Regions from separate parts of the Homo sapiens genome. Here region 2 is linked to region 1. The links come from fine-mapping of genetic effects on gene expression. Tissue or cell type: whole blood. Region 1 holds a variant in brackets; the other region holds the start of a gene. Each region is shown on its reference strand, or each on the opposite one.

Region 1 (15,500 bases):
TCGTGATCCGCCCGCCTCGGCCTCCCAAAATGCTGGAATTACAGGCATGAGCCACCACGCCCGGCCTCTCCTAAGGTTTCTATGTGTCTATCAACTTTTCTGCTCTGCAGGCATTTCCTGAAGACCTACAGTGTGTTGAGCCCTACGCATTTCTCTCTCTCTCTCTCCCACAACACGTCCATTTCTCCATCTCTCTTTTGGAAAGATGGGATTTCACAATGTTGCCCAGGCTGGTCTCAAACTCCTGGACTCAAGCGGTTCTCCTGCCTTGGCGTGTGTGTCTTCAGTTCCCTATTTCTCACTGTCTCTCTTTCTGTTCCATCTCTGTGGCTCTCATGCTCACCCTTGCCTTCCCGTAAATTCGTGCATTCATTCATTCAACGTCCAACTACACCTGTCTGACTCACCCTGTCTCCCTCTCTGCCTCTGACCTCTGTTTCTCTGTGTCTCCTCACCTCCCTTATTTATTTATTTATTTATTTATTTATTTATTCATTTATTTATTTATTTATTTATTCAGAGACAGAGTCTCGCTCTGTCACCCCGGCTGGGGTGCAGTGGTGCGATCTTGACTCACTACAACTTCTGCCTCCCAGGTTCAAGCAATTCTCCTGCCTCAGCCTCCCAAGTAGCTAGCATCCACCACCACAGCCTGGCTACATTTTTTGATTTTTTTTTTTTTTTTTTTTTTTTAGTAGAGACACGGTTTCACCATATTGGCAGGCTGGTCTTGAACTCCTGACTTCAAGTGATCCACCTGCCTCAGCCTCCCACAGTGCTGGGATTATAGGTGTAAGCCACCGTGCCAGGCCTCCTTACCTCCCTTATCATTCTCTTCAACTCTCTTAGTCTCTGTCTCTCTTGCTCTTTTCCTTTCTGAGTGTGAGTCTCTCAAGTTTCCCCTTCTCTTTCTGTTTCGGTGTCTCTCAGTCTCCATCCCTTTCCCCACCCCCAAGCCACTTTTCTCTATCTCTTTTTCTTTCTTTGAGATGGGGTCTCACTATGTTGCCCAGGCTGGTCTCAAACTCCTGGGCTCAGGCAATCTTCCCACCATGGCCTCCCAAAGCACGGGGATTACCGGCATGAGCCATTGCGCCTGGCCCCTACCTCTTTTTCTTCCACCATCTCTTTATCTCTCCAGTACTCCCTCTCTCCTTGGATATATATACCTGCTAACTACGGTGTCTCATCTCTCTCTGTCTGCCTTGTCTGCCCTCTCAGTGTCTCCAAGTGACTCTACACACACATCTCTCTCTTTCCTTCTCACTCTCTCTCCCCATCACCCTTGGGAGCCCAGCCCACCTACCGAAACCGCTCCTGGCCAGCCGTGTCCCAAATCTGTAGCTTCACAGTCTTCCCACCCACGTTGACCACCCGGGATCCAAACTCCACGCCGATTGTGTGGTTGGAGTCCTGTTTGACTGGGAGTAGGAGGAACAGAAGGGGCAGTACAGGGAGAGAGGAGACAGCTCAGAGGATCCCCCATCCTCCAAGGCCCTCTCAGTCTCTACAAACCCATTCTCCTTGCTGGAGTGACTTGAGGTCAAGGAGAACCTAGTAAAGGACATACGACAAAGCAAGGACCAAAAAGCCAGCACTGGACTTGTACCTATGGCCAGCCCTGCCCTCCCCACCGGCTGCCCACCAGCCCACACCATGCGCATAAACACAGCTCAGGGTTCCCAGGACCACTGCGGGAAACTCACACTTATTCTCAATGAACTGATGAAGGAGACATGATTTGCCAGTTCCTGCACTGCCAATCACCAGGAATTTGAAGAGGAAGTCTGACCAGATGGAGCCAAAATCAGGGATACCCACAGGGAGAGAAAGATACAGGGAAAAAAGATGGATTCCAATCCAATCTCTCTCTCTAACCATCACAGTTAGAGGGAGAGAAACAGACATAGGCAGAAACAAACCAATAGGTAACAGTAACAGATAACTCTTATGTAGTACTTGCCATGTGCCAGGCACATTCTATATATTTTTTTTCAACTTTTATTTTAGATTCAGGGAGTACATGTGCAGGGGTTTTTTTGTCGTTGTTTTTGTTTTTTTGAGACAGAGTTTCACTTTTCGTTGCCCAGGCTGGAGTGCAATGGCGCGATCTCGGCTCACCGCAACCTCCACCTCCCAGGTTCAAGCAATTCTCCTGCCTCAGCCTCCCGAGTAGCTGGGATTACAGGCATGCGCCACCACACTCAGCTAATTCTGTATTTTTAGTAGAGACGGGGTTTCTCCATGTTGGTCAGGCTGGTCTCAAACTCCCGACCTCAGGTGATCCGCCTGCCTCAGCCTCCCAAAGTGCTGGGATTACAGGCATGAGCCACCGCGCCCAGCCCACATGTGCAGGTTTGTTACATGGGTCAATTGTGTGTTGTTGTGGGCCAGGAACAGTTCTAAAGGTCTTTACTCACATCAACAGCTCACATCATCCTCAGGAAAACTCTATGAGGGAGGTAGACTAAAAATTATTCCCATTTTCCGGATGAGGTAACAGGCCAGAAAGGTTAACTGACTTGCCCAAAGTGACACAGCTGGGCAGAAGTGAGATTCAAACCTAGGCCAAGGGCTCCAGAGTCCCAGATCTTAGCTATTTTGTCGCTAAAGTCTCTTGAAAGCTATTTAAACAAGGACTACGATATAGCCCTTGTTCCTCTTCACCTCCTACCACCCTCTGACTCATTCACTCCACTATAGCTCCTGACCTTCAGTCTATTCCCTGAAAATGACAAGCTGGTTCTCACCTCAGGGTCTTTGCACTCTTCTCCCTTCTCTTCTATATTTGTTGAGTGAATGCGGCTCCCTCTGACTCCTAAACCTGCACTTCCCCTGCCTCCAATCACCACCTCCTATGGTGCATCCCTACTGATTTTCCACTTCCCGACCTCTCCTTCCCTCCCTCTGCCCAGAACCCGGCTCCATTCTCATGCATAAGTCCCACCCTTTGCCACTAAGTCCTGCCCCTAACTCAAGGACAGCCCATCCCCAAACCCATTCCAGAGCTCTCTCCAGCCAGATCAGCCCCAGGGTCCCGAGCTTCCATTCAGTGTTCCCTCTAGCCCATAAGCCCGACTCCTGCCATTCATGCAGTCAGCCCCGCCCCTTCACTCAGGCTCCGCCCAGATCCATTAAGGCCCACCTCTTCCCTCAGGGCCTCCCTGAACCCCTCAGGACCAGCTCCCTCAAATCCCGCCCCAGATCTATTTAACCCACGCACCAGACCCTCAGGCTCCACCTAAATCGATTAAGCTCAGCCTCAGACCCACTAAACCCCTCCCAGCATCCACTTAGGTCCTGCCTCCATCACACCAGACCCCGCCCCCTGATCTACAAAGCCCCGCCCATTCCCACAGGCCGCATCCTCCCTGGGCCCAGACCCAGGACCCCAGCTTCGTCCACCACCCTCACCGTAGGTCTCAGCCATGACTCGGTCGCGGCCGCTGAGGGCCGCAATATGGCGCCGCGGCCGCGCCTGCTCCTCGGCTGGCAGCCGCTCCACTCCGGCTACAGCCCCGGCTCCTTCCTACTCCCCGGGCCCGGCACCGCCACTTCCGCCTCCGCCCCCCTCCGGCGCGACCCGCTCCGGCAGCTGGATACCAGGCGACGCTTTCCGAAGGGCGGGATTGGCGGACTCGCGGGCAGGGGGCGGGACAAGAGGCGCGGATTGGTGGCGTGAGAAGGACCAAGCCCAAAGGGGCGGGGCCGAGCCCAGCGATTGGCTGAGCAAGTGGGAAGGGACGTGCAGAGCTGCTTAGCTGAGCCGAGGAACGGATTTAGTCTGGAGTACGGGGGGCAGAGTCGAGTCTCCGGATTGGATCGGAGCGGACTTGGGGGAGGGGATACAAATGCAAAGAAGGGGGCACGGGCAGGATTGACAGAAAGAGGCTGGAAGAGGAGCTGATCTTGAGCTGGCGGGAGCGATTACTGTTCTCAAAGGCGAAAAGGAGGAAAACTGGGCAGATAGGCGCAGGTTACTTCCCACCTCCCTTTCCAGATAATCTTCCAAGAAAACCTTTACTGTGCGATTTATATCCTCCGCGTAGTCCGATTGGCTCCCTCCCACTGGTCTAGAGAGGACACTACAATCCCCTAGTTGGGCTGCTTAGGTTTTCCTTTGCTTGTGTCCGAAACCTAAGCTTAGGAGCGCTCCTACTGCACAGGGCTTTCATCAGTGAAACTCTGCCTAGCAACCACTGACGTTACCACAGGCAGCGGGTTAATTGGTTAGATTCAGCAACCTAGAGAAACATTTCATTTGTACAGTCCCCACCCTACCCTACCCCACCCCAAAGACCACGGAGACGAGCCGTTTGCACTGGGCTGATTGTATTTGCATAAAGCCAAGGAGGGGAAACGGCAGGGCCAGCGGTAGGCTGAGCTCACTGGCAGTAGAAATCCCATTTCTGAAAAAGAGAAAGGGGAAACAGTGGAAAGAAAACCAGCGGTCACACCACAAAGGATCTAGTGGTTTTAGCAAAGGCTGCAGCTGCAGGGCCCAGGTCTGGCCACACAAGTGCTATGCAAATTAGCCTAGAGCCCTCTAATCTTTGCACCTCCCAACTGGACCCATTTTACTGGTGAGAAAATTGAGGCAGGGAAAGAATTTCTCCCAGCGCACATACCTAGGCTGCCAGGGAGCCAAGTGTGGGAGCATTTTTGCCCATCCCCACAACCTAAGGGTCCTCCCCCCACATTTCTTGCCAGCCCCCATGACACTCACGTCTGTCTTCACATCGACTTTGCCAGGTTTCAGGGTCTGGTCCTCTCGGACAATGCTACTGGGGAAATAGCCCAGGCGAGCAGCCAGATCTCCATAGTAATCTCCCTGAACCTGGGGAAGAGGAGTTAAAAGCTAGGGTCTGGGAAGATGGCAAGCTTGTGCCTGCTGAAGGCCTTTGCATTCTCCCTTCTCCCTGATCTCCACATAACTGCTCCATCCTTGTCATATGAATCTCAGCTTAAATGCCACCTGTTCAGAGGCCCTTTCTGAACACCCAAGTAAGTCTCTGTTAATTCTCACAGCAGCGCATATTTGCTTTTATTATTATTATTATTTTGGAAACAGGGTCTCATTGTGTCGCCCAGGTTGAGGTGCAGTAGCATGATCACGGCTCACTGCAGCCTCAACTTCTGGGATCAAGCAATCCTCCCACCTCAGCCTCCCGAGTAGCCGGGACCACAGACACATGCCATGAAGCCCAGTTAATTTTAAATTTTTTTTTATAGAGATGGGGGTCTTGCTATGTTGCCCAGGCTGGTCTCGAACTCCTGGGCTCAAGCTATCCTCCCAACTTGGCCTTACTTGGGATTACAGGTGTGAGCTACTGTGCCCGGCTGCTGCTATTTTTTATGCCTTGCTTTTTGTTCATTTCCCTCCATTAGAATAAAAAGGATCATTTGTTGTTGTATCTTGGTGTCTAGAACAGAACGTGGGACCATATCAGGTCCTAAAATTGGTAAATAAAGTGAAAATAGGCTGGGGGGCAGTGGCTCACACCTGTAATCCCAGCACTCCGGGAGGCCAAGGCGGGCAGATCATGAGGTCAGGAGTTCAAGACCAGCCTGGCCAATATGGTAAAACCCTGTCTCTACTAAAAATACAAAAATTAGCCAGGTGTGGTGGTGCATGCCTGTAATCCCAGGTACTTGGGAGGCTGAGGCAGGAGAATCGCTTAAACCCAAGAGGTGGAGGTTACAGTGAGCCGAGATCGTGCCATTGCACTCCAGCCTGGGTGACAGAGCAAGACTCTGTCTCGGAAAAAATTAAAAAATAATAAGCAAATAAAATAAAGTAAGTAACAATATCCCCCCACAATGTCTATTTCAGTTCACCCCCCTCAAATCTTCCCTTCATGGGGATAATGAGTCTACCCCAGCTCTGTACCCTTCCCTCTTTCACTCTCCCAAGACTCACGCTGCCTCCCCAGAAGAGCCGCCCACGGCCCTTCAGCTTGGAGAAGACATACACCACTTGGCCCCGGTGAATGGTCAGGAATCGGCAGTCGGGGGCCATGTAGTCCTGAAGGGCCACAGCCATGGAGATAGGGTCTAGGGAAGGAATAGAAGGGAATGCAGCACCCTCCACACAGGCTAACGCCCAAGCCCCCAATTCTCCCCTCCCCATTCTTACGGCTGCACTCCTGGTCCGCACACAGCTTCCGGTCAGCCAGCTTGGGCATAGGACCACCCCTGACACCAGGTCCGGAGAAGGCAGACAGCAAGATGATGACACCAAGGCACACCAGGGACCGGGCCATCGTGGACTGTGAGCAAGAGAGTGAGCAAGGGGGTGCTGGGGTCTCCAATTTCCTCCCCTCCCTCTCTCCCGTAGTACAAGGAAACTTGTGTTCTTGGTCTTGTCCCCGCCCTAAACCAGTCCCAAACTTCGCCCACACCACCTAGAAGTTGCTATGAAACCAGAACCATTTCAAGGATAGGGTAAAGGCTGTAAGCCCAAGGAAATTCCCAGATAAGGTCCAAAGCAGCTCACAACTTTCCCAGTGACAGCCCCCTCCTCAACAATCACAGAGGCCTAGATAAGGTGGTTGAAATATTCAATTCCATCTTCTCTTGAGTTGGCTTAGGTACCTGGGCTCCTCCGCTGTCCCCTCTGGCCACAGAAGCGGAGGAGCCTGTAAAGAAAACCACCTTGGAATTTCCTGTGCTGTGGGGCAGGAGAACAAGGCAGCCCTTTGATTACCAGAAACAGCCCAGCCCTTGAGTACTGACTGAATATTGTATGCTGAACCTTAGGCTAGGCAAAGTCCCACCATGATCACTATTCCTCTGCACCAGACGCTTCCCACTGGATGACCTGGGCTAAGCTATTTCTCCTCACAAAGCCTCAGCTTCCTTATATGTAAAATGGGAACAATAAAAAAGCCAATAGTTACAGAGCATTCACCAAGTACATATTTATGTTATGAACTCAAATGGATACTCTGTATCATGTCAGGAGGAGTGATTATAACCCCTCCCTTTTTTTTCTTTTTTGAGACAGGGTCTCACCCTGTTGCCCAGGTGGAGTGCAATGGTGCCATCCCGGCTCACTGCAGCCTCAACCTCCTAGACTCAGGCAATCCTCCCACCTCAGCCTCCTGAGTAACTGGGACTACAGGCACAAGCCACCTATGCCCAATTAATCCATTTTTTTAAATAATTATTTTGAGGTAGAGTCTTGCTCTGTTGCCCAGGTTGGAGTGCACTGGCATGATCCTGGTTCACTGTAGCCCCTATTTCCTGGGCTCAAGCATTCCTCCCACCTCAGCCTACCGAGTAGCTGGGACCACAGACATGTACCATTATGCCCAGTTAATTTTTTGTATTTTTTGGTAGAGCCGGGGTTTCGTCATGTTGCCCAGCCTCGTCTCAAACTCCTGGGCTCAAGCAATCTGCCCACCATGGCCTTCCAAAGTGCTGGGATTACAGGCATGAGCCACCAAGCCCAGCCTAATTTAATTTTTTGAGACAGGATCTTGCTGTTGCTCAGGCTGAAGTACAGTGATGTGATCATAGCTCACTGCATCCTCAAACTCCTGGGCTCAAGAAATCCTCCCCTCTCAGCCTCTCGAGTAGAATAGTAGGCAAGTCACCATTCTTGGATGATTTCTTTTATTTTTATTTTTCTAGAGCCAATGTCTTACTGTGCTGCCTGGGCTGGTCTTGAACTCTTGTCCCCAAGTATCCTCCCGCCTTGGCCTCCCAAAGCACTGGGATTACAGGCATGAGCCACCAATGCCTGGCCTATAACCCCTTGTTACATGGAAATGGAAGTGTGGAGTTAAGGAACTTGTCTAAGGCTTACAGAGCCAGGAAGTGGAGAAGTGGAGAGGCTAAGACTTGTATCCAGGCCCACAGCCATTGCTATGCTATCTTTTTTTTTTTTTCTTTTTTTTCTTTGAGATGGAGTCTCATATTGCAGTGGTACAATCTCAGCTCACTGCAACCTCCACCTCCCGAGTTCAAGCAATTCTCCTGCCTCAGCCTCCCGAGTAGCTGGGATTACAGGCATGTGCCACCATGCCCGGCTATTTTTGTATTTTTAGTAGAGACAGGGTTTGTCCATGTTGGCCAGGCTGGTCTCGAACTCCCCACCTCAGGTGATCCACCCGCCTCGGCGTTCCAAAGTGCTGGGATTATAGGAGTGAGTCACCGCGTCTGGCCTGAAAGATTTTTTTTTTTTTACAGGCAGGGTCTCACTCTGTCACCCAGACTAGAGTGCAGTGCCACAATCACAGCTCACTCAGCCTTGAACAACTGGGCTCAAGCTATTCTCCCACCGCAGCCTCCTAAGTAGCTGTGACTATAAGTGTGAGCCACTGCACCTGGCTTTGAAATGCAATTTCTTTTTTTTTTTTTTTTTTTTTGAGACATTGTTTCGCTCTTGTCACCCAAGCTGGAGTGCAATGGCACGATCTTAGCTCACTGTGACCTCCCCCTCCCGGGTTCAAGTGATTCTCCTGCCTCAGCCTCCCAAGTAGCGGGGATTACAGGCATCTGCCACCATGCCCAGCTAATTTTGTATTTTTAGTAGAGATGGGGTTTCACCATGTTGGTCAGGCTGGTGTCAAACTCCTGACCTCAAGTGACCCACCCACCTTGGCCTCCAAAAGTGTGGGGATTACAGGTGTGAGCCACCGCACCCGGCCCCACTTTAAAACACTCTTTAAAAAATTATTTCTTCATTCAGGCCAGACATGGTGGCTCACTCTTGTAATCCCAGCACTTTGGGAGGCTGAGGCAGGCGGATCACTTGAGGTCAGGAGTTTTGAGACCAGCCTGGCCAACGTGGTGAAAATACAAAAATTAGACAGGCATGGTGGCACACACCTGTAGTCCCAGCTACTTGGGAGGCCGAACCAGAATCACTTGAAACTGGGAGGTGGAGGCTGCAGTGAGCCAAGATCACGCCACTGCACTCCAGCCTGAACGAGAGAGTGAGACCCTGTCTCAAAAAAAAAAAAAAAAAAATCCGCCGGATGCAGTGGCTCACACCTGTAATCCCAGCACTTTGGGAGGCTGAGGTGGGTGGATCACCTGAGGTCAGGAGTTCAAGACCAGCCTGGCCAATATGGTGAAACCCTGTCACTACTGAAAAATACAAAAATGAGCCAGGCATGGTGGCGCATGCCTGTAGTCCCAGCTACTCAGGAGGCTGAGGCAGAAGAATTGCTTGAACCTGGGAGGTGGAGGTTGCAATGAGCCAAGATCATGCCACTGCACTCCAGCCTGGGTGACAGAGTGAGACTCTGTCTCAAAAAAAAAAAAAATCATTTCTTCATTCATTGAAGATTTCATGAGTACATAAAGTATCCTAGGACTTAATCCAGACCCTGGAGATTCATCAAGGAATGAAAATTAAAGGGGAGATAATCAATGAACAAAGTTCAGATATATGATAGTGTGTGAAGTATTAAGGATACTCAGAAAGAACACTCAAGAATCAGCTGTGGGAACCGTGCCCCCTGCCCCATATTACTGATGAAGCCACAAAGAAATAGAAGTGACTTCAATTCCCAAAGCACAGTGCATGTATCTCCTGCTGCATAATTAGCCTAAGACCAACATTGCCCCAGTGCAGTGGCTCATGCCTGTAATCCCAACACTTTGGGAGGCTGAGACAGGAGGATTGCTAGAGCCTAAGAATTTGAGACCAGCCTAAGTAACACAGGGAGACCCTTGTAC[C/T]TACAAAAAGAAGAAAAAAAGAGAAAAACTAGCTGTGCATGGTGGTACAAACCTGTAGTCCCAGCCACTCAGGAGGTTGAGGTGGGAGGACCACTTGAACCCAGGATGTAGAGGCCGCAGTGAGCCATGATCGTGCCACTGCACTCTAGAGCAAGAACCTGTTTAGAAAAAAAAAGACCAAAATTATCACCTTTTCTGTGGGTCGAATGTCTCAGGCTTAAGGTCTGCTATAAGGCTGCAATCAGCCTGTCAGCCAGGGGTGCAGTTTCATCTGAAGGCTGAATGGTGGGAGGACTGCTTCCAAACTCATTCAGGCAGCTGTTGGGGAGATGCAGTTGCTTGTGGGAACTGGACTGAGGGCCTCTGTCCTCAGTTTTCTTGACACGTGGACCTCTACAGACAGCTTGAGAGGTGAAGATGGCTGGGCCTCTGGGCCGGTGAGGACTTGGAGAACTTTTCTGTCTACCTAAAGGATTGTAAATGCACCAATCAGCACTCTGTGTCTAGCTAAAGGTTTGTAAACACACCAATCAGTGCTCTGTGTCTAGCTAATCAGGTAGGGGACTTGGAGAACTTTTCTGTCTAGCTAAAGGATTGTAAATGCACCAATCAGCGCTCTGTGTCTAGCTAAAGGATTGTAAGCACGCCAATCAGCGCTCTGTGTCTAGGTAAAGATTTGTAAACGCACCAATCAGCTCTCTGTAAAAACGGACCAATCAGACTCTGTAAAACAGACCAATCAGCACTCTGTAAAATGGACCAATCAGCTATCTGTAAAATGGATCAATCAGCAGGATGTGGGTGGGACCAAATAAGGAAATAAAAGCAGGCCACCCTAGCCAGCAGCTGCAACTGGCTCAGGGCGCCTTCCATGCTGTGGAAGCCTTGTTCTTTTGCTCTTTGCAATAAATTTTGCTGTTGCACATTCTATAGGTCCACATTATCTTTATGAGCTGTAACACTCACCGCGAAGGTCTGTGGCTTCACTCCTGAACTCAGCATAGACTACAAACCCACCAGAAGGAAGAAATTCCAGATACATCTGAACATCTGAAGGAACAAACTCCAGGCACACCATCTTTAAGAACTGTGACACTCACTGCGAGGGTGCATGGCTTCATTCTTGAAGTCAGCGACGCCAAGAACCCACCAGAAGGAACCAATTCCAGACACAAGCTCACAACGTGGCAGCTGGATTTCCCAACAGCAAGACAGAGGCCAGTCTTTGTACCCACCCTTTGTACTCTTCCTCCATATTGCAGCCACAGGAGCAGGGCCACTGAGAAGCACAATTTTTTTTTTTAATTTTTTAAAATTTTGAGACAGAATCTCACTCTGTCGCCCAGGCTGGAGTGCAGTGGCATGATCTCGGCTTACTGCAACCTCCGCCTCCCGGGTTCAAGCAATTCTGCTTCAGCCTCCAAGTAGCTGAGACTACAGGCACGTGCCACCATGCCTGGCTAATTTTTGTATATTTAGTAGCGACGGGTTTCACCATATTCACCACGCTGGTGTCGATCTCCTGACCTCAAGTGATCTGCCCACCTCAGCCTCCCAAAGTGCTGGGATTACAGAGGTGAGCCACCGTGCCCGGCCTCTTTTTTTTCATCTCTCACCTCCAAAGTGTGCTTCGGAGATCCACAGGCTAAGCGTCCTTCTCCAGAGGGTCCACGTTGCTCCCAGGGACCCTCACCTCTAGACTGGCAAGTCCAAGCTTTTTTTAGAAGAGGATGGACACACACAGGCTTGGGGCCAGGGAAGAGTTTGTCAGGGATGAAGACTAGGTCTGTGCCATGTCTACAAACCCAACACCAAGCACCATGAGCTCAGCTCAAATGCACCTTCTCAGAAGGGTTTTCTGGACCACTCATTACTGTTCCCAACCCCATCACCCGCTTCACATCAGGATTTTTTTTTTTTTTTTGGAGTCTTGCTCTGTCACCCAGGCTGGAGTGTGCAGTGCCACTGCACCTCCATCTCACTGCAACCTCCACCTCCAGGTTCAAGTGATTCTCCTGCCTCAGCCTCCCAAGTAGCTAGGATTACAAGCATGCACCACCACGTCTAACTAATTTTGTTGTTGTTGTTGTTGTTTTGTTTGTTTGTTTTTTTGATACAGAGTCTTGCTCTGTCGCCCAGGCTGGATTTTGGAGTGCAGTGGCGCGATCTCGGCTCACAGCAAGCTCCACCTCCCGAATGGCTCACGCCATTCTCCTGCCTCAGCCTCCCAAGTAGCTGGGGCTACAGGCGCCCGCCACCACACCCGGCTAATTTTTTTGTATTTTTAGTAGAGACGGGGTTTCACCGGGTTAGTCAGGATGGTCTCGATCTCCTGACCTCGTGATCCGCCCGCCTCGGCTTCCCAAAGTGCTGGGATTACAGGCATGAGCCACTGCGCCCGGCTGTTGTTGTATTTTTAGTAGAGAGAGTGTTTCAGCATGTTGGCCAGGATGGTCTCGTACTCTTGATCTGAAGTGTTCCACCCACCTCAGCTTCCCAAAGCGCTGGGATTACAGGTGTGAGCCCCTGTGCCTGGCCCAGCCTAGGTTGTTTTTTGTTTGGAGATGGGGTCTCACTCTGTCACCCAGGCTGGAGTGCAGTGGCACCATCATAGCTCCCTGCAGCCTTGAACTGGGCTCCAGTGAACCCCCTGGGTCAGGCTCCCAACTAGCATGCCACCACTCATGGCTAATTTTTAATTTTTTTTTTTTTTTTGTAGAGATGAGGTCTCACTTTGTTGCCCAGGTTGGTCTCCTTGCCTCAAGCGACCCTCCCACCTCGGCCTCTCAGTATGCTGGCCCCACCACATCAGTTTTGTTTTCATCACAACACAATACTGGAAATTCTCTATTTTATTAATCACTGCATACCTTGTCCCTACAAAAGTATGCAGCACACAATAGGTACCCAGCAAATATTTGCTGAACTTATTGAGTGCTTGCTAAGTGACTGAAAGGGAGAGAGTGTGTGCTAGGGGATGGGTAATGAGTACAAACATCATCATGGTATTAATATAGAGGGACTACTCTTTACACAGGAAGTAAACAAAACTCAGACTGGGGACATCAACTGCCCATGGGCTAACAGCTATGAAGTCCCCAGAAAGCAGAAACCAGGACCAGCTGACCACGGAACGCACATACTTAATAGCCAGTAGGCCTGTGGTTGCCAGTATGGTGGGCGAGATGTTTCCCCTTGCCTGTCAGCAATAAACGTCATTTACTGCAGAGGGCAATTCCTGTCGTTCCCATCTTTCCCATCACAAGTGGAGGAGGTCTGCATGGGGTGCCCTGTATCTTCACTGCTTTTAATATTGACATTCCTCGTGAACAGGGAGAGCAGGGCATGAGCAGGATTGGGCCTAGAGCCTTGGCAGGAAAATAAGAATTTAGTATGTTTAGCCAGGCACAGTGGCTCACGCCTGTAATTCCAGCACTTTGGGAGGCCGAGGTGGGTGAATCATTTGAGGTCAGGAGTTTGAGACCAGCCTGGTCAACTTGGTGAAACCCCGTCTCTAATAAAAATGCAAAAATTAACCGGGCATGGTGGCGGGTGCCTGTAGTCCCAGCTACTCAGGAGGCTGAGACAGGAGAATTGCTTGAACCCAGGAGGCGGAGGTTGCAGTGAGCCAAGATCATGCCATTGCACTCCAGCCTGGGTGACAGAGTGAGGCTCTGTCTCAAAAAAGAAAAAAAAAAAGCCCGGGCGCGGTGGCTCACACCTGTAATCCCAGCACTTTTGGAGGCCAAGGCAGGCAGATCACCAGGTCAGGAGTTGGAGACCAGCCTGGCCAATATGGTGAAACCCTGTCTCTACTAAAAATACAAAAATTAGCCAGGTGTGGTGGCATGCACTTGTAATCCCAGCTACTCAGGAGGCTGAGGCAGGAGAATCGGGACGCAGAGATTGCAGTGAGCAGAAATCGCGCCACTACACTCCAGCCTGGGTGACGAGCAAAACCCCGCCTTAAAAAAAAAAAAAAATTAGCCAGGCATGGTGACGGGTGCCTGGAGTCCCAGCTACTCAGGAGGCTGAGGCAGGAGAATCGCATGAACCTGGGAGGCGGAGGTTGCAGTGAGCTCAGATCATGCCACTGCACTCCAGCCTGGGCAACAGAGCAAGACTCCATCTCAAAAAACAAGGAAAAATTTAGTATGTTTTACTGTATTCATGTATGTATGTATTTATTTTGAGACAGAGTCTCACTGTCACCAGGCTGGTTGATTGCAGTGGTGCAGTCTCGGCTCACTGCAACCTCCGCCTCCCATGTTCAAGCGATTCTCGTGCCTCAGCCTCCCAAGTAGCTGGGGTTACAGGCACGCGCCTCCACGCCCAACTAATTTTTGTATTTTTAGTAGAGACAGGGTTTCACCATGTTGGCCAGGATGGTCTCGATCTCCTGACCTCGTCATCTGCCCACCTTGGCTCCCAGAGTGGTGGGATTACAGGCGTGAGCCACCGCACCTGGCCTACTGTATTTAGTGGTAGATCTACTTTTTGCCAAAAGATTGCCTTTTTCCATGTACCTGGTGTGAGAAAGGGTCTTAAGTAATATGCGCATGCGCATATATATATATATACACACACACACACACACACACACTTTTTTTTTTTTTTTTTTTGAGATGGAGTCTCACTCTTTTTGTCATCCAGGCTGGAGTGCAGTGGTGCAATCTCGGCTCACTGCAACCTCTGCCTCCCAAGTTCAAGCAATTCTTATGCCTCAGCCTCCCAAGTAGCTGGGACAAGTGTGTACCACCATGCCCAGCTAATTTTTTTTTTTTGAGACAGATTCTTGCTGTTGCCCAGGCCAGAGTGCAATGGCGTGATCTTGGCTCACTGCAATCTCCACCTCCCGGGTTCAAGCGATTCTCCCTCCTCAGCCTCACGAGTAGCTGGGATTGGCACCCGCCACCCGTGCCTGGTTGATTTTTGTATTTTTGTAGAAACGGGGTTTCACCATGTTGGCCAGGCTGGTCTTAAACTCCTGACCTCAGGTGAGCCACCCACCTCGGCCTCCCAAAGTGCTGGGATTACAGGAATGAACCACCACGCCTGGCCAATTTATTGTATTTTTAATAGAGATGGGGTTTCACCATGTTGCCCAGGCTGGTCTTGAACTCCTGAGCTGAGACAACCTGTCCACCTCGGCCTCCCAAAGTGCTAGGATTATAAGCGTGAGTCACAGCACCGGGCCATGTGCATATTATTTTTGGTCAATTTAAAATTCCCCAGGACAGGGATGTGACAAACTCCTAAGGATGGTCCCCCCAACCAATCTCCCTTCCCTTTTTTTTTTGAGACGGAGTCTCACTGTCACCCAGGCTGGAGTGCAATGGCACGATCTTGACTCACTGCAACCTCCGCCTCCTGGGTTCAAATGATTCTTCTGCCTCAGCCTCCTAAGTAGCTGAGATTACCGGAGCACACCACCACGCCTGGCTAATTTTGTATTTTTAGTAGAGATGGGGTTTCTCCATGTTGGCCAGGCTTGTCTTGAACTCCTGGCCGCTGGTGATGCGCCCGCCTCGGCCTCCGAAAGTGCTGGGATTACAGGTGTGAGACACCACGCCTGACTCAACCTTTTTTTTTTTTTTTTTTTTTTTTGAGTCTCGCTCTGTGGCCCAGGCTGGAGTGGAGTGGCTCAATCTTGGCTCACTGCAGCCTCCCCGTCCTGGGATCAAGCAGTTCTCCTGTCTCAGCCTCCTGAGTAGTTGGGATTACAGGCACGCACCCCTATGCCCAGCTAATTTTTTTTGTATTTTTAATAGAGACGGGGTTTCACCATGTTGGTCAGGCTGGTTTGGAAT
Region 2 (14,035 bases), not on the chromosome of region 1:
TTTAGGAAAGACTTCTTCCTCTATGTAAAAACAAAATTTTTCAACACTTGACAAAGCTAAATCATGATGCTTGGCTTTCTATGCTATTGAAGTTTAATACAATCTGTTGACTCCAGTCTCAGTATACTCATCAGGGGTCACAGTCATAATAGATCATCAACATTATGAACTGTTGTTTTTGAGAAATGTGGATAATCCCCATTAGAGGCTAATACTCTTTTTGCAGGTAAATCAAATTATACCTTATACTTCTTATATTTTTTGTGCTGGTTTAGTTGAGAAATATTGGAGAGAAAAGTCACAATTCAAATACTTGATGCTTTTAAATTATCCAGAATCATTTTATACATGAGTGATTTATTCAAGGCAAAGATTAGAGGGACAGAATCAGAAACAGAGAGCAGTTCTCCTTATTCTCAGTTAATAGCCCAGCTTCTAAAATCAGATCACAGGTTATTAAACACATTTCTATTCATTAGTCATCATTAAAGTTCATTTGCTATGACAATTTGAAAGTGGCCTTATCTCTGTTAGTACTATGCAATAATATCGGCTCTCAGAGATAAATGTATTCCTTTCCTTTTCCAGATGCATAACATTCCCTAGGATCAAACTGAAATGTTGAGTCATTTAGGACAGATAATATTCAGTGCACACTCAGCAAACTTTATTCAATATGTGGCTACTACCAAAAGCAATGATCTTTCATTAAATGCTTGTTGCAAATTATCATTTAAGCTTCACATTGTTCATTATTTACACTGGCAGTACCCTATTTCCAATTCCCAAATGACACAGAGCCTCCTCTGATCATTCATCTCTCTGCTTACTTTCTCCCTAGTAATCTCTTTTGTTCTCTTTACTTTCCAGATCAAAGTGCCTTCAGGCTTCCCAATAACTGCCTACAACAGTGAATGGCCTTTTCTGCCATTCCCAATGAGTAAGGTAAGCAAGGTCAACACATCACGATGGGTGTGCACCGAATAAGTGCAACGCCTAAGGAGTGGTTATTAATTCCAAAGCTTTTTCCTTCACTCAAAAAACATGCGTGAAGCAAGTGACTTAGAGTGATGTTATCACTAGGAAAATCTTGGAAATATACACAGGGATACATGCAAACATCCCTCAAGCATAAGATACCTGTGTTAGTAAGAGTGGCCCACCATAGTCATAATTCTAAATAAGAAGGAAGTGTGTTGCCATTAGAGTGGGCATGAAATTTAGGAATATTCCCCAATTCTTTTTCTCATCCTCTTTCTTCATAACCTCCCTCAGAAAACTTGCTCAATTTCACAATCTCTACTATTACTCAATAGGTTGACTCTGAGGCCTAAGACTCACATTTTCAAATGCCTGCCAGACATTTAATCCACTGATACCGCTAACCTAAACAAGGTCTTTCTCCTGATTCCCTTGTTTCTTTTCATATAATATTATCTTCTAGTAAACCAAACTTGAAGCTAGTAGTTACTTTTAATTCCTCATGCTCATTCACCTCTCATACTCAAATAAAGCTGCCAAATCAGCCAACTCTACCTTCACAGAGCCATGATATTCTTCTCCTTTTCTCCATTCCCATCATTAATACCCTAGTACAAGGCCTCATTACTTTTTGCCTCCTAACTCTGCTCTTTTTTGTCATAATCACTCCCCCTCCACTTGTAGTACCTTATTTCAAATTCCCAAATGATACAGAGCCTCCTCTGATCATTGGTCTCCCCGCTTACTTTCCCCATAGTAATCTCTTTTGTTCCCTTTACTTTCCCAAATCAAAGTGCCTTCAGGCTTCCCAATAACTGCCTACAACAGTGAATCCATTCCAATCCATTACTTATACTTTTGTCACCTGAACAGTCCTAACATATAGATTAGATCATGCTACTTCCTGTTCGGAAGCCTCCAACAGTTCCCCATTGCTCACAGATCGAAGTCCATATTCCTTAACCCAATACTAAAAGCTCTCCTCACAATCTGTCCCCAATCCATCTTTATTGGCTCCATCTGTCACAATCACCTTCGAGCACCACATATTCCTGTGAAAACAGATTACTGTCTTTCCCCCAAAACACCGTATGATAGCTCATAAGATCCTTAAACTTAGAATATTTTAATACTCCCATTATCGCAGATAGAAAACTTTGACATTCCAGTGCTAACTCTTCCATGGAGCTTTTCCCAACACCCTGAGCTGAATATGTTCTCACAATCCATAACTCCTCCATCACTGAATTAGTCCCTGCATAGTGCTTCTCACCTAGTAGGTCTTATCTTCACCTCTTACATCCTCTATTAGACTATACTGCTTGTTTCTAATTCTGTAAATATTCTAACCTATAAGGGTCATATTGGTTTTTAATTTTCCAAAACCCAAGGCAAAAGCAAACGTTCCCAATATTGGAGGCCATAACAGATGCAAAGATCAAAGATGATAAATATGATACTTGAATAAACAGCTGAATGAGAATACAATGAAATCAGCTAGGGCTACAATTCTAAGTCAAAACAAAGAAGTCTTCTGTGTCCGTATGTGTTGATATATTTCTTCTCTGCTTTTTGTCATGACATGTTGTGGAAACCATGTCATAAAGTGAGAGATACAGTCCCGCGGGAAGAGTGATATTATAGGGGATGTGTATTTGACCAAAGATTCCTTATTAAATAAGCGACAGATATGAACAACATGCAATAAAAACAAAGATATATCAACTGTAAATCTTTCCAATAATTTAAAATCATAATCTGAGCTTTTTCAAATGGGCACCTATGCGCTGTGCATATTTGTTATACCAAGGGTTCTAATATATCACAAATTATATATACCACACATAAAAATAGAATTAACTTTCATAAATCTCATTAAAGTCAATATGCTAGCTATAATAAACCAAAGCTGAATGGATCATTTTATTTGCCTTGTTGCTATTTAGAAGGATATTGGGTGTTTGTGTGGAAAGAGTTATTCAAATGACTTAAGTCTTGCTTTCAAGACCAACAAAAAAACCAGCCCCCAACCTGCCCATGGAAGTAGAACCAACCATTTTCTCTTTATTAATTTCACTGTGATAACCTGACACATTCATTATAATTCCTCAGACCTTATAGCCATGTTCAAAGGTAGATATGCGAGATTTGGAAAAGGAAATCTCAGGTTCTAGCCTGGCTCTGTCACTTATCAAGTGAGTGATACATACCCTTTCTGCGCCTCAGTTACCTAAAAGGTAACTATAGTATAAAACAATGGCTACCTCAGAGTTACACAGAAAATTCAGAGATAGTGTAACTAAATTGCTTTTAAACTTCAAAACCCCATCAAGAATAAGCTTTTTTATTTATGTATTAGTCTGTTCTCATGCTTCTAATGAAGACATAAACAAGACTGGGTAATTTATAAAGGTAAGAGGTTTAATTGACTCACAGTTCAGTGTGGCTGGGGAAGCCTCAGGAAACTAACAATCATGGTGGAAGGGGAAGCAAACACGTCCTTCTTCACATGGCGACAGCAACGAGCAGTGCCAAGCAAAGAGGGAAAACTCCTTATAAAACCATCAGATCTTGTGAGAACTCACTCACTGTTAGAAGAACAGTAGCATGGCGGTAACTGTCCCCATGATTCAATTACCTCCCATTGGGTCCCTCCCACAACATTTGGGGATTATGGGAACTACAATTCAGGATGAGATTTGGGTGTGGACACAGCCAAACCACATCAATTTACTTATTTATTTATTTATTTATTTATTTATTTATTTAAAGATAGGGTCTCACTACATTGTCTGGGCTGGAATGCAGTGTCTATTCATAGGAAGGATCATAGTGGACTGCAGCCTCAAACTGCTGGACTCAAAGAATCCTTCTGCCTCAGCCTCCTGAGTAGCTGGGACTACAGTATCACACAACTGCACCTGACAAGAATAAGCTATTATTAATTATCAAAATCATTCTTGAGGCTGATGGCATTTGGTCCACTATTAGCATGTTTAAAAGTGAAAGGCTAAACAAACATTCCCTCCCCACCCCATGTCTTCCTAACTCCTCAGTTTATTCAGAAATACATTTGCTCCTTTTTAGTACAAAACAGCATGGAAATGGTAAGAGTTGTTAGGTCACTCTTTACCACTCTTCTCCTTTTCAGAGCCTATATGATATCTTTCAGGGCACTCTGCACTACACTGAATAGCCATAAAACAATTATCATCTGGGAGAATGGCCACTTTGGTCACTATGCTGGACATAGTTCAGTTCTGTGGACAGGACATTTTCTTCAATCAGGGAAGAAGGGGAGAATTTTCTTGGTGTTTAGAGGAATCAAATCTGAGTCCTTTTGCCTCCAAAGGACATACAACTTTCTAGAGACTGCTCTTAATGTGGAGAAAGGCAAGGAATAGAGAGAGGGGAAAAAAGCTAAAAAGGTATTAATGAAGACTGAGTATCTCCATCTTAGGAAGCTAACGTGCATGTGTATTCAATACATGTGAAAGGAGAGATAGCCCTGGCCACCTAGCCTTCTACTCAGCCCCATTAAGAGTGAAGAAGGGCTTTGAACTGGAAGGGAGGAGGGACTTTCCTTACTTCCAAATCACAATTTTTTTTTTTAAATAACCAGACTCTTCTAGAAAGAGAAAGGAACTTTGGAGACTAAGAAAGTGTACAGGTAGATGTCCCCAGATGGGATAACACCTCCTAATCCTGGGAAGAAGCAGAGGCTGCCAGCCCCAGGAAGTGCACAGCCCAAGTCCAGTGTCCTTTCAGTACCTCAATAAGTATACACCTGGGGAGGGAGGCTTGACTTTGCTGAGGCTAGAACCCCAGGGCTGCCAGTTTCAGCAAAGTTCTCAGATAAGCGATTCCTTTCAGAAAATCATATGGACATGGTCCATCATCATATTACAAGGCTAGGGAGGGTTTTAGCCTCCCTTCTCATAATCCCCATCAGTGCCACTTAACCCTACCCCCATAAAAATACACAACATAAGTAAACACAGTATGTTTGCTCTACAAACACACTTTCAATTCAGGTCCTCTATTTCCTTCTATCTAGGTTGCGCTCCATCCCAAACCCTTCCTAAAAAGAAACTCTTGAGCCTCTAAAGGATTATACCAGCAGAGATGGACCTAGATTAGAGAGCCCTCCCCATATATTCTGGAGCCTTTGTATGACTTGTAAATTAACTGTCCTACTACTCAGATGGGGAACTCAGAGCCAAATTTAGCAATAATGATGATGATGATAATAATAATAATGCAATGTAACATTTCTTGTACTTAGAGTAAATATTCACACAATACAATAAAAATTATTCAACTTAAAACCTGTATTTACATAACAAAATCTATGCCCTAACTATAGGTATCTTACTTTTATTCTCTATGAATATCTGCTGAAGTACTTTTAAAACTATCAAGCTTCCACTTCAATTGTGCCCAAGGCAAGGAAATTTAGTACATTTTAGATTTTAGTACATGGCTGGGCAAAGTCTTGAAGGGAGAGCAGTGTAATGATTGGGTCAAACACAACCATTGCACAAGGGAGCAAGCAGCACTGGGGAAGAGAATTTAAAAGGGAAAGATTTTCTCTCTGGAAATTCTACATTGAGAGAGCTTCTGTGCTATAACTCTATAAGGTTCTATGTTCTCTTTTTGTAACAGAAGCCATTGCCTTGTATTAAGACATTAATAAGAATTAACTTTTTGTATAGATGAGTTTAAGAAATAACCTGCAAAACTGCTAATACAGGTATAAGACAGAATGCCCTTCTGCATTGGCAGTCACTACAGCAGATTTGGAAAACTAGAAACCTGTGGGCTAACTTTGGCCTAAAACTTTTTTAGTGTCCAGAAAATGCTTATTAAAATTTTTAACTTAAGTGTTACAGAATAAATATTAGGAGATTTACATAAAAATCTTTGTTTCTCAGCTTTAAAAAAAAACAGAAGATCTGGCAACATTGGGCCACCTTATGTTCACCTGGCAACAATCAGCTGAACCAAGAAATCACTGAGCCCTTTAAACCTCCCAGCTCACTACCGTCCAGCATCTTCAGTCCCTATGACATTGTATCTGCCCTCTTTCACTCATTTGGATATCCAGTGGTCCCTGAAGGCATCTGAATTGGTGACCTCTGTACCAAAGATGTGAGAAACAGTCATTAAATATGCAGCAACCTGGAATGAGGGGTGGCCCAGCATTTGAATGCCAGAGAAGGCCTTGATAGTCACATATCCTTTGCCAGCACTGTATACTAGACATGAGAGATGGAGCAGGCCCTGCATCAAATTCCTTTTAGCCTTTTTCCTGCACTGAACTGTCTTATATGACAGATTTCTTCTCAGTTATTAAATCTAATCCATAGCTACTCAGTGTATATAAGGACTGGAAGGACATTTAAAGAGCTGATTCCGACCCTGCCTCTCCTGGTTATGTTAGGCAGGTTGCTTTTAAATAAATGGGGGTCTCAGTTCCTCCTTCATAAAACTAATGTGTCCACCTGGAATCATCATGAAGATCATTTTTAGTTGGGCTGTCTCCATCTATACCACCTCCAACTTATCTAGAATCTACTCAACCCTCAAGAGCTGTTCAAGTTCTATCACCTCCATTAAACCTCTTCAGACTTCTCCTTTCTTTGAATTTTTGAGCTTATCACCAACACCGTCCAAATTAGCATTTACTAATTTTCTAATTGCTTTGCTTTGACTATACTGGTTCACTTGCCACACTGAAACAGAAAATTCCTCTAGAGACTTTACAGTTTAATTTTTAAATCCTCTACCGCATGTTATACTTAACTGGTATTCAATGATTATTTAATTATTTAAACCAGATAAAGATACAGAAAATATGTATAAAATGGCAACCTTCCCAAAAAGCACCTTTCATCAGCCTCCTCAAAATAAATTATCCTAACCAGCATCATAACTTGACCATCTGATTCAGGCAGGCGTAATGTGTACTATGCCTGTGAGACATCAATGAAAAGACACTGCTAGATTACCATATTACTTTGTACTTGATCATTTCCTCCTTCCACAGTTGAAAAGCTCAAAAGGGGAAAAATACAAACAACCATTAACTCACTACAATAATATATTAATCCGTGAAAGATTTGTTACCCACTAAAATAGGGCATGAGAAAAATTTTCCTATTATAATTTTTAAAAAAAGTCAATTACTAGTAAGAAGCTACAGGTCAGATATTTGAAAACTACAACGAAAACCATCCTTACTCCTCCCCCACCCGCTTGGATGTCATCAGAAATTCTGAGTAAGAGTAGGCCAAGTTAGGATATCATGTGGGTGGGGATTTACCCACATTCACCGGAAAAGCAGTGGGATACAGGTTTTACTTGTTCCGGTCAAACCTCCCTTCCCCCTCACCTCCCAAATAATTAAGGCTTTAGCTATGTGCTCAGTCCTTTACTATCAAAAAAAAAAAAAAAAAAAGAGAGAGAGAAAAGAAAAGTTCAAGTACAGAATTATTTTTAGATTATAGTCCGCTTAGAGATGAACTATTTGAATAAGGTTTCTACTTTTGGAAAGCGGAGAAAACTAGGTAGTAAAGCCTCTATTTCCCTTCTAAGAGTAAACTTTTTAATCCAATTTGATGATTACCTTAATATCTCTACTACATGAATTTAAGATAACACTGTATCACTAAAGTAAATGAAATTAGCAAGCGTTAATCACGTCTTAACAGCTAGCCAATCTTAGTGGATTGAAATTAAGTCAATTTACAAACTGTTTTCCTGTGATGGAGTAACACTTAATACAGGTGTTTCCACTTAATCCAATTCATTCTGTAATTCACATTATACACCTACTATGTTTGAAGGTCTGAATCAAAAAGGAGTGTACCCGTACGGTGGGGAAGGCATTTATTGGGAGGGGAGGACATGGAATCATGGCCCTAATCCATTTAAAATAATGAAAAATACTGATTAAATATCTATAAACTTTCCCGGGGAATCCCAGTAGAACAGAACATGGTTTTATAAGCTGAGGGTAAAAACAAGCGTCTCAGTTTTTTTATTAAAAGAACTTTTTTAAACTGCCTTTCAACAGTTTGAAAGCTTTCAATGGTTTGTTTTATCTGGTGTTTCTGATCAACCAATTAATCCATCCTCTGACAGGAACCCATCTGTCAGTCTATCCACACACAATCTGAAAGGGACTCCAGATTAGGCTCCCTCTTTTAGCCACGCCTACACAGGAAGCATCCTGTGGATGGAATGGAAAGTATGCCAGGCCTTTGCACGCCCCTCACGCCCCCATCTCCTTCGCTTAACCTCGACAGCCTCTTACCTTTAAACCCTAGCTAGGTTTTCACACAGCCCTATCAAATAAAAAGGACAATACTCAAACTGAATTAGAGAATGAGAATTGTCGAGGTTTCTTTTAATTTAGATCAATGCCAGTTTTACTCTTCTTCTAGAGTCCTTTTTAAGGAGATATCATCCCCACCAGTTGTGATCCCAGAGAATCACAACAGGGCATGGCGTAGGAAAGACCTCGAAGCTCAATTCTCTATTATACCATGCCCACCATACGAAAGGCATTTAACCTCCCGCGTGATTTTGTCCTTAAGATGCTCCACAAGATCTAACACAACTCCTACATCTAAGAGTCGACTCACTAATTTCAAGGGTTTTTGTTTTTGTTTTTGTTTTTATAAGCTCTGCGTGTGGCACCCGATAACTTCAAGTTTAGAGTGAGCAGTTTCCTCCCAATGCCGTTTGCTCAACTACAGTACTAGGAGTTTTGAGGAGCAGCTCTCTAGCGAGTCCTCCTGCTGCGTCCTCCCCCACACGCACGCACCAAGTTCCACAGCTTCCGCAGCCGTCGGGGAACAAAGTCCTTATTTGGTCACGGCCATCCCCTTACATAGTGGAGGTGGAGATCCTCCTCTCCAAGGACCACCCGCGTAGGGCGAGATTCCCCAATTCTGACTTTTCACTACTATCCCCCACAGGGGCGGGGCTCCAACTCCAGGTAACCAGACCAGGCAACCTGGACTTCCAATTAGCAGGGGAGTCCCCAAGCCAGCCTGGCCAATCTCGGCCGGCTAGCCAAGACGACCAGACGTGACGTCAGACATGATTAAGTTGGCGCGTCACCTAGACGTCAGCCTCTTACCTCTCGGACGTCCCGTCCCAGGAGCAAAACTCTAGTGACTTTGGGCCCGCCCCCGTGAGAGTGGAGGGCGGCCGATGAGGGCGGTTCTGAAGGGAACAAGACCAATGAGACGAGCCCGGGGCGGGGCGCGGGGCCGGAGGGTGGGGCGGGTGGCGGCGGTGGCAGTCCGAGGTCTGGCTCCGCGCAGTATATGACAGTACGTCAGCAGCGGGATGGCCCTAGCAGTGGCGGCGGCTGCAGAAGCCCAAGCAGCCGCGGCCGCAGTGGAGGCTAGAGCCGGAGCGGCGGCGGCGGCGGCACCCCGGGGAGTTTAAGATGGCGGCGGGGGGGACAGGGGGCCTGCGGGAGGAGCAGCGCTATGGGCTGTCGTGCGGACGGCTGGGGCAGGACAACATCACCGTACTGCATGTGAAGCTCACCGAGACGGCGATCCGGGCGCTCGAGACTTACCAGAGCCACAAGGTGAGCGGGCCGGCCGGCAGGCTGGGCTCAGAGAGGCAGAGCGCACCCCTCACGGCCTGGCCGCGCCCGGGTGCGGGGCCGGCGGAGCCGTGGCTGGCAGCTGCTACCGTCAGCGCCCGCAGCGGCCAGGCAGGGCAGGGCCGGGCAGGGTGGCTGACGCCGCGGTCCCGGGCTAGCCTGGGCGTTGGGGAAGCGGGCAGTCGGGCGGCCCCTGGCGGCGGGGCCGAGGCAGCCGCAGCCCTGGGTCGGCTGCGCTGCCGCTGCGGGACTTTCCGACGGCCCCCGAGGATTTCCTGGCTTGTTGGGTCCCAAGGAGGGAGAGAGGCCCCGATAAGAGAAGTGAGATGACCACGCTACCCTCGGCGGGGAAGGAGGGTAGCGAGCAGCGTATGGGCAAGGAACCAGGGACGACTCGCGGGCACCAGCTGCCCGCGTTTTCCAGTTACATAGGCACGGTGGATCCTCAGAGACAGGACACAGGCGCTCCGCGTGTGGGGGTGGGACCTTGTATTCCCAGGGACTTGGGGACACAGGCGCTCCACGTATCAGGGGACACACTGTGTGCTCGAAGGGATGGGGACTCGGGCGCATGGTGAGGGGCACACGGTGTACTCATAGAGATAGGGACTTAGGCAGTCCGTGTAAGGGGGCGGCGCACACTGGAACGGCGGGGACACTGGCGCTTCGCGTACGGGGGGGGAGGGGACACACCTGCATTCCCAGGGACTCCGGGACACCGGCGCATCGCGTTACTGGAGACGCGCCGCGTCCAGGACGGACACAAACCAACACAGTGCCCTGGGGAGAGACCTGAGGACTCACGCACACTTAGCGCTCCCCGGGAGCAAGACATCGGGTTCTGGAGAGAGAGGTTCACGGACGCTCAACGTACCCGAAAAAGCTCCCGGCGTCTTGGGCTGACTCTGGGAAGTGTAAACGGGGAACGAGCCAGAGCCAGAAGGTGTGGGGAGGATACAATGCATCCCGGGCAGAGACTCGGGCCTCTCACCCCTCGTTTTCGAGAGAAGCCCATGGACACACACACACACATATACACACACACCCCTCCAGTACAGAGAGAGGCTCAGATAGGCGCACATACACTGTAATTGGACTACAAATCCAGACGCTTTCATGTTGGAAAAAAAATGGGAGAGACAGGGAAGCACCGAGAAGGGACGCGGTAACCAGGGTGCATGGGGAAACAGTTTATGGACATGCAGTACTGTGGGAGACCGGAGTGGATACATCGCGTGAGGGAGGGATATGCCATATGGGGGAACCTGTAACGTTTTACAGGAGAGGAGAGAGTCGGAAGGGAGATAGAACCCACGGGGCATCTTACAAATAGCCCGTTCGGTACTGAGGAACACACTCCAACCGGTCTCGTACAACAGACAGAGGGGCAGAAGGACACCGAGACACAGATTCACATAGTTATTCAGCTAAAAGTGGGGAAAAGAATTGACATCTGTTGAGCTCCCACTAGTGCCAGGCACTTTAAATACATAGAGCGAAGGCAGAGTCTGAGGCAGAGCGGCAGGAGAGGTGTGAACCCTGGTTTACTGGGAGTGTATTCAGAGAGCCCCCCCACCCCATAAGTGTGCACACAGAGGAAGGCATTAGTTGTGCACGCTTTGGATAGAAAATGAACTCACATGATAGGGTATTTGTAAACAGCAGTGGAGGCTCAGAGGTGAGTGTATTGTTAGGAAGGTACTCACAGAATTGGGTGGACACATGAATGTACGTGCTAGGACACTTGTGTTACTAACCAGAGAAGCATATGGTGAAAAGGACTCACAGACTTTGTGTGGTGGGGTGAGGGGGCGTCAGGGAGGAGTGCATGCACAGGGAGAAAGGTACCGTCCTACATACAGTGAAATCTCGAGAGAAAATCTCAAGAATGGCTGGGAGAGATACAAGAAATAGAAAACTGCATGTGCCAATAGCTACTCTTAGATAGGTGCACCTGCAGTGAAGAGACCAGCATCAGACGGAGTGGGAGGCCCATATGGGGGAAGCCAGAAACACAGGCAGAGGGACAGAAGCAGACAGTGGAGAGAAACTCTGGAGAGAAACTCAGCCTTGCAAGATGGAAAGATAAGCTTGCCTGTTCCAAGGGAAGGGCGTGGGAAGGAATGGCAGTGGGAAGAAGGTAGGTCTGGGGATGTGAAGAGAAAACCCAGAGGCCCAGAGAAAAAGAAGTCAGCAGGAGGCGGCCAGCCCCTATTCAGGAGCAGACCCGAGGAGCAGAGAAAGACTTGACACACAGTGGGTGGGAAGAGGCATCTCTGGGGGCAGTAGGTCAGCCAGCTACCTTGGGAAAACAACAGGCAACTGTACAGTTGATTACAGCAAGATTGACAGTGTACACTTGTGGGGAAAGTGGGCAGATGAGGAGGTCCACTTGGGGAAGGGAAAGCGAAGTGACAGTAATTGGTCATGATCTGCATGACCACTGGAGGCCCCAGAAGGGAGTGCTTTGTTTTCCTACCTTTGTATGGCCTTCATTTCTGCTTCCTATACCCTAGTGTTTTCATATTTGGGATTAAGTTTACAGTGCTCTAAAAGCCCCTGCATTTATATACCAGTAGCTTCCAGGAGACAGAAGATCAAAAATTCTTTCTCTGCCAACCCACCACTTAGTTCTTAATTTAAAAAAAAAAAATTACTTTTTAAGAGGTACCAAAGTCGTCAATGTCTTTGTTTGCTTCTGACTGCTTCTAGTACTTTTTCCATTTCTGTACATGCCCATTTATGGGTCTGGTTGGTCTCTACAGAGGCAGCAAAGGGAAAGGAGGAAGACTTTTTCCCAGATCTCTCTACCTTAAAGCATGGAGCCAAGTAGCTTGTATTAGTCCTAGGATTCCTTTTCTCCTGCAAAACTGGTGGTAGAAACAGTGGCATGCGGGGGATGGTACATAAGCTGACCATCCTTAACCAGCTCCTATCAGGACTCACTGTCAGCTCAGCCATGGAAACACTTTTTAAGGGGTGTGGACAAGCAAGCAGGAATTGGAGTGAAACTGTCAACCTCAGTTGGATGAAAACTGGGAAGAAACCAAAAAAATGAGATAGATACCTTTCTGGTGACTGAATGTACCGTTGGTACTTACTGCAGGCTCCACCCACCTGTGTGTCCTCAGTGCCCCTCCTCCTGACTCAGCCAGACCAGTGTACCTCTATGGGCACAGTAAGAGTTGCTAGCAGTAGGCATCTGGCTGAGCTTTTATCCTCCAGTGGAAGGATATTAATTTGGTCTTTCTTGTCTTCCATCGTTATTAGAAATAGGGCTCATGACTTTAAATTGAAGCTGCTGTTTGGGAACATGTTCACATGGATTGGCTAATTGGGAAGAGGTTTCTAGTGGTCAAACCTGTTCTCTCTGGGGGGAAAATGGTTTTAATTTCTCATATAAAACTGTCCGCCACCATTCCTGTACTCATATAGGAGGGTACTTGATGGCAGGTAGCCTCTAAGCAGCTCTGGCCTATGTAAAGTGATGACTATTACTCCTTCTCTTCTAATGACTAAGAGCCAGAAATTTCAACAGGTTAATTTGCTAAATTAAGCATCAGAGAATTCTTTTTTTGTCCAAATTATTTTGTCTATTGGAGTTACCCTTCTAAATTAACCCACTTTGACGTAAGGCTTCAGAGAAGTGAATTTAAAAATTTTAGGAAGCTATGATTTAGGCAGAACAGAGAACTTCTTTAGATGTAATTGAGCAAATTTACAGCGTTCTAAGGGTTTGTGGAAACAGAATATTTGATGAAAATTTTGAAATCTTGTTTTTTTTCAAATTACAATTCCTCACTGTTTCAAAAGACACATAATCCTACTTGACCTTCATTATTCAGGTTCCCTATTTTTAGAGAAGTGATCTTGGGAGCCTTTCTAAACAGGCAGAGGGGCATTGTGAGTCCAGCAATGAGAGTTATAGTTGGAGTAAATATCTTGTAAAAGTTGTTTTGCTACTCACTTTGAATACAGAAATGGTTTCAAGTTGATTGTGTATCATGTTAACTGGAAAGTTATTTTCATGATTGGCAGAAAAATTTAGACATGATAATACAGATATCTACAATATTAACCTTTTAAAATGTAGATTATTTTGAATGAGGAGAAAAGTTGCTAAATAAATAAAATCACAAATTACAACTTTATAGTCATTTTAAATTGTTATCTGTGATTGTGTGGTCTACATAAGCTCTACATATTTTAAATGAGCATATATTACTGTAATTACATATTTCCCCCAAATGGAAAACTATATTTAAAATTAAAATCCAACATTTAAAAATACATTTTAGCTAGGTTCCTCAGTAATGCTGCTGGCTTTATTTTGATGTTTGAGTAACTTACTTTTATAACAAAAACTATATCAAAGCATTATTTTCAGATTTTGTTGCTGAGCCTGTCAGTTTAGTTTTTAAAAAA

The links. PIP is the estimated chance that this variant, and not a neighbour inherited with it, causes the effect.
Region 2: it holds the start of ELL2, and the variant in region 1 is fine-mapped to the expression of ELL2 in whole blood (TOPMed, PIP 0.99).

The regions. Positions count from the first base shown.
Region 1 is chr19:40,766,306-40,781,805 of GRCh38, reverse strand. MIA (MIA SH3 domain containing) reads right to left here and starts at 6,285. Exons shown (of 4, transcript NM_006533.4): 1 at 6,137-6,285; 2 at 5,921-6,054; 3 at 4,727-4,837; 4 at 4,316-4,409. The coding sequence starts at 6,263. The coding sequence ends at 4,386. MIA-RAB4B (MIA-RAB4B readthrough (NMD candidate)) reads right to left here and starts at 6,269. Exons shown (of 10, transcript NR_037775.1): 1 at 6,137-6,269; 2 at 5,921-6,054; 3 at 4,727-4,837; 4 at 1,707-1,787; 5 at 1,307-1,421. It overlaps RAB4B (RAB4B, member RAS oncogene family), which reads right to left and starts at 3,559. Exons shown (of 8, transcript NM_016154.5): 1 at 3,415-3,559; 2 at 1,707-1,787; 3 at 1,307-1,421. The coding sequence starts at 3,430. It overlaps RAB4B-EGLN2 (RAB4B-EGLN2 readthrough (NMD candidate)), which reads right to left and starts at 3,587. Exons shown (of 12, transcript NR_037791.1): 1 at 3,415-3,587; 2 at 1,707-1,787; 3 at 1,307-1,421. RefSeq lists enhancers at 1,957-2,488, 3,376-3,445 and silencers at 3,506-3,745, 4,296-4,425. The variant C/T (reference allele first, on the strand shown) is at 9,691.
Region 2 is chr5:95,957,132-95,971,166 of GRCh38, reverse strand. ELL2 (elongation factor for RNA polymerase II 2) reads left to right here and starts at 9,316. Exons shown (of 12, transcript NM_012081.6): 1 at 9,316-9,592. The coding sequence starts at 9,446. LOC101929710 (a long non-coding RNA gene) reads right to left here and starts at 9,166. Exons shown (of 5, transcript NR_130776.1): 1 at 9,131-9,166. It also overlaps a transcript of CAST not described here. RefSeq lists silencers at 8,760-9,227, 9,183-9,422, 9,493-9,902 and an enhancer at 8,707-9,464.